Regions from separate parts of the Homo sapiens genome. Here region 1 is linked to region 2. Evidence: fine-mapped expression QTL. Tissue or cell type: whole blood. Region 2 holds a variant in brackets; the other region holds the start of a gene. All regions are shown on one strand. Distances are from middle to middle.

The links. PIP is the estimated chance that this variant, and not a neighbour inherited with it, causes the effect.
Region 1: it holds the start of TUT7, and the variant in region 2 is fine-mapped to the expression of TUT7 in whole blood (TOPMed, PIP above 0.99).

What each region holds. Positions count from the first base shown.
Region 1 is chr9:86,353,217-86,355,835 of GRCh38, reverse strand. It overlaps TUT7 (terminal uridylyl transferase 7), which reads left to right and starts at 1,426. Exons shown (of 27, transcript NM_024617.4): 1 at 1,426-1,565; 2 at 2,606-2,619. RefSeq lists a silencer at 1,168-1,347 and an enhancer at 1,368-1,577.
Region 2 is chr9:86,401,974-86,404,733 of GRCh38, reverse strand. No RefSeq gene overlaps it. Among named protein-coding and RNA genes, the nearest start is that of TUT7, 49 kb to the right of the region's middle. The variant C/T (reference allele first, on the strand shown) is at 1,660.

The DNA of each region.
Region 1 (2,619 bases), 49 kb after region 2:
ATAAAAGTTGTAGGAATGTGTTTTATATCACTTTTAGTATAGCCACATGGTTAATAACAGCCTCATATTCAGGGTCTGGATTGCAGCAGTGCCATTTACTTCACTGCAAGTGCTAAATGTCCTCATCTTTAAAAGTGGGATAATGATATAGTCTTCATGAAGCTGTGAGGATTAAAGAAGTTAAGGCTGGGTATGGTGGACCACCCCTGTAATCCCAACACTTTGGGAGGCCAAGTTGGGCGGATGGCTTGAGGTCAGGAATTGGAGAGCAGCCTGGGCAACATAGGAGACCCCTGTCTCTACAAAAATATAAAACAAAGGAGTTAATATTTGTAAAGCCTTCAAAACAGTTATTGGCATAGCCAGAACTTTGTGTGTTATTATTTTAAGACCATTGCTCCACAGGACCTGACAGCTTTCAATTTACATGCTTTAAAAAAGCAGAGAAATGAAAACTGTCGATTTTCCCAACGCTCCCTAATTTCACTAGTTGCTTGATGTTTTTCAAAGCATTTAGAACACTGTAAACAGCAAGGAAGGTCATACAGTAAAGAAAGAAAAAGCAACCCCGAGTTCGAGGTGTGCACTCTTCAACTCAAAAATTCGAATGTAACGCTCTCTGGTCATCCCTTGCCATTACACATATTCTTCGAAATGAACTGATTTTTTTTTTTTCCAAGTAAAAGTAATCCTTACACAACCTAAGAAAAAAGCAGAGCATTTTCCTTGACCACTTTGAGATCTGGGTGAGCAGTGGATGTTTAAATGCTGGCATTTCTACAAGGTCGGCAATTAAGAATTCACGAAAACATTAATCACTACGAATTATCAGAAAAACACCAAGAGCGCTACGAGGCCTCGGAGCCTTTACTCCCCCTGGAAGTAACCGGGGAGCACCCAGGGGCAAAGCCGAGGCCCCAAGCGCGGGGAATGCGGCTTTGCCCGACCGCTGGCTCCGCGTCCCTCTCCGGGTGCATAAGTCTTGGCTCCCGCGCCTCTCCCGAGCACTTAGCCTCCCGAGCAGAGAGGGGAACCAGAGGAGCGTCGAAGCCGGGAGAGAAAAGGGGCGGGCGCCGCTCTGGTAAGAAGTTCGGGCCTGGCCCCCAAGCGCCGGCGAACCGGCTATCCGGCGAGCCAGTAATTAGCCCGCTCCGACGGTTGCGCCCGGTGGCCAGACCCGGCGCCCGACACCTGGAGCGAGTGCGCTGGGGCGCCGGACAGGAGAGGCCAGGCTGGCAAAGGCGCGGGAGGCGGGGTCGGAGCGTGGGCGGGGCACCGCGGGGCGGGGCGCGTCGCTCGTTTCCGGTGTGCGCGGCGGAGCGCTAGGGCGGGGGCACAGTCGGCTCCCAATCGCGCACAATGAGACAGCGCTGAGCGCCGGAAGTGGGGCCGAAGGAAAACACGGAGAGGGAGCCCGGCCGGGACAGGAAGAGGCTGGGGACCGCGGCGAAGGTGGTGAGTGCTCTTGGGCGCCTTCTCCCAACGTCCCTGCCAGACTCGCCTCCGGGCTGATTCTCCAGTTGGTTTCCTGGACTCCAGAGTAGCTGTCCGGCCTGGCCCCGGAGGTACGTTGGTTCCATCCCCCGCCGGCCTCCTCGCACCAGTTTGGGTGACCGAGGAACCCCCAGGCCGGCAGAGGCTGAGCCCTCGGGTTCGAGTCCGTGTTTTCACTTTTTGTCAGACTGCGGGCGCAGAAGACGGGATTTGGGTCAAGACATTCGGCTCTGGCCCCCTGGCCGGCCGGGGGAACCCTGGAACCCCATGGAGACAGCAGGTCACTTCCTGCTTCCTGGTCCCCACGGTGGCTTCTTGGCCAGGAGTGCAGGGACGCCTCCTCTTTCTCCACGTCGGGCTCAAAAGGGTGGAAACTAAGGCAGATCGGTGGTGGAGCGGTCAGATGGGGATTGAAGAGGAGTGTCATTCCTCAGGGAATTGCTGTTCCTGACAAAACCAAACTTGTTTGGGGTTGGAGAACGGGGATTGAGGAGGTTAGATGGAGTTGTCCCTTGATCGGAAACCCAGCCTCTTTAATTACAGCTGCACCTTGGTCGGAAGCCCAGCCCCTCCGTAACCTAAGCGCTCAAAGCCGGTCTGTCCAGAATAGGGGTGGTGAAGGGACGGAAAATTGGAGTTGAGAAATGTAGTACTCCTTTCACGTAAAGTTTCGGTGTATAACACTTACAAGTAATTGCCAACTTAAAAAACAAAAGACTGTTTCGGTAGTTTAGTAATAATATTGGCTTGGGATGAGGTTTTCTTTGAAGAGAAACGCCTTGTTACAGAGGGAAAAGCCGACCATACTTGATATGAGTAATATTCTACTATGCTACAGTTCTGGAACCTATAGAGCTTCTCTTATTCACACATTTAATCTTCATGCTAAATAGTAAGTATTAATTTTCATGAAGAATATTAGAGGACCAAGCCTCCCAACCTCTAGGGTAAAGCACTGATTATTAAGAATGTGATAGAATTTTTATTTTAAAAAAATAGGGAGTTTCTTTCTTACAGGCTTTGGGGCATCTGTACGATAAATTGTTATTTTGTATACTTGTATGATATCTTGTTATATAGTTTGATATTTCCCCAAAATACCTTCTTTCAGGTGCAAAGTAAGAA
Region 2 (2,760 bases):
TGAGTCTGATTTTGCCCAAGCATCCTCACAGGACCTCTTGAGAATGTAATCATTCTACTACTTTGTCTGAGGGTAGAAACAGGGAAACAAGGGAAAGCTGGAAAGTGATTGTAGGAAGGCCCCGTAATGGGACCATGGTAGGAGGAATGTGTCTCAGGAAAGGTGAGAAAGTTATTCTCACTTCCTCTCATCATTCTCTTCATCAACCTCTCCTCAGACGGCATGGGCTAGGGCACTGGACATCCTCCAAACTTGATCAGTTATATGATATCACTCTAATATAACATAATGTTCTTAGTCTATTTTGGCTTTTATAACAAAATACCATAAACTGGTTGGCTTATAAACAACAGGAACTTATTATTTCTTACTGTTCTGGAGGCTGGAGTGTCCCAGATCAAGACACTGATAGATTCCATGTCTGGTGAGGGCCTGCTTCCTGGTTCTTCTCACTGTGTCTCACATAATGAGGGCGTTCTATGGGGTGCCTTCTAAAGGGGCACTAATCCCATTCAAGAGGGCTTCTTCATCATTGCCTAATCACCTCCCAAAGCCTCCACCTCCTGATACCATCACCTTGGGGGTTAGGATTTCAACATACCCATTTTGGAGGTACACAACATTCAGCCCATAACAATAATGAAATTGTATCCTTTTAGCAGCAGGTACCAGAATTCATCTTGTACAGGATCCATCATTGTTGGGAAAAGACCCTGGGTCAGCCCACTTCAGCCAGGGAGGTACCCATGGGGTCATGGATGTTGGCTGGCACTGTGGCTTCCACAAAATTATCCTGAGAAGGGTGAGATGTCTGTGACACTCCTGAAGTGAAGGAGGAAGAAGAGACTGAAGGAAAGAGAAAGTTAAAAGAGAGAGAAAAAAGAAGAGTCAATGCAGTGATAAAGAAGACAGCCCCTCAAAGTCTCACCAAAGCCACTAAGCCCATAAAGGCTTGGAAGTGGGTTAAGAGTATGAGTGGGGTTTGTGTCCAAGTTGACAGATCATAAAGCAGAAAAAATACAGGCAGAAGTAGAGCTAGAAGGCAATGTGGCCTCAGCTGCTAGCTGGGTTACATAAAATATCATATGATTAAACACATAGTAAGTCCTCACTTAACGTTTTTGATAGGTTCTTGGAAACTGCGACTTTAAGCAGAACTATGTGTAGCAGGTCCTCAAATAGCATCGTTTTGTTCAACATTGTTTTATTATAACGTTGATTAAAAAAAATTGGTTTTGTCACACATCATTTTGCTTAAAGTCACAGTTTCCAAGAACCGATTGAGGTCATTAAGTGAGAACCTACTGTATGTATTTCTACTAAAGGCTCAAAATATTAAGGTGCAAAAAGATCTAGAGATGAGACAGTGTGTAAGTGGCATGCCAAGCAGAGGGAACCCCCGTGCAGATGCACAGAGACAACCATGAACAAAGTCATGCACCCATCAATATTTGCTGAACTCCTGCCATGTGCAAAGGAACTATGCCAGGCTGTGGAACCCCATGTTGAGCAAAACCAGAGTCCTGGCATTCACACACCAATGAGAAAGACAGACACTAATCAAGTCACTGCACAAAAGTCTATAAAATGACAGTGGTCAGGAGGGCTATGCAGCCCTCTCATGGTGCAATGAGAGAATGAACAGGGAAGCTGGCCTCG[C/T]CAGGGGGATCAGAGACCTCTTCCACAAATAAGCAATGCTTGGCCTGAGAACTGAATGATGAGACCTTAACTAGGTGAAGAAAATAGAGCAAAGCACCCCAGGAAGAGGAATATGGGTGGCAAGTTGGAGGACTGAAAGAATGCAATGTGTGTTTAGGGCAAAAAGAACGCTGGGGAGAATGAGCAGCATGAAGCCGGGAGGTTGGAAGGAGCAGGTTTCTCAGGGGCTGCAGACCACGTTACCAAGTTTAGTTTTTACCATCAGGGAGAGAGGAAGTCACTGACAGGAAACTGATAGGAACACCCAAGAAAGTCTGAAAATGGCAGATGAGTCCTCTGCATATGCATAAACTGTGTCTCCACTTTACTTAGCATCTCCATAAACTATAAATTTGGCTTACCCTGAGTTGCTGGGCATGCCCCAAATGAAAAAATATTTAATTAACATCATTAACTTAGAAGGTTGGGCACAGTGGCTCACACCTGTAATCCAAGGACTTTGCGAGGCCGAGGCAAGAGGATTACTTGAGCTCACGAGTCAGAGACCAGACAGGGCAACATGGCAAAACCCCATCTCTACTAAAAAAAAACAAAAAACCTGGTGGGTGCTTGTAGTCCCAGCTACTCAGGAGGCTGAGGTGGGAGGATCGCTTGAACCCGGGAGGTGGAGGTTGCAGTGAACTGAGATTGCACCACTGCATTCCAGACAGCCTGGGTGACAGAGCACGACTCCACTTCAAATTTAAAAAAAGACAAAAAGTAATAGAAGGAAAAAATTTTAGCTTACTAACTGCATTGCCATAATCAGTATTTTTAAAATGAGTTTTCTATCAATACACAAGAAAAACCCTAAATTCTGAACTACCACTGAAACGTAAATACCCAGGATGTGAATTCACAATTTAATGTTTAATTTTTAGTGACTTGAAGAATACTGATCAAACAGCCGGAGTTCTATTTCTTTTTTTGTTTGTTTGTTTGTTTGTTTGAGACAGAGTTTTGCTCTCATTGCCCAGGCTGGAGTGCAATGGTGCAATCTCGGCTCACGTTACAACCTCTGCCAGTTTCAAGTGATTCTCCTGCCTCAGCCTCCTGAGTAGC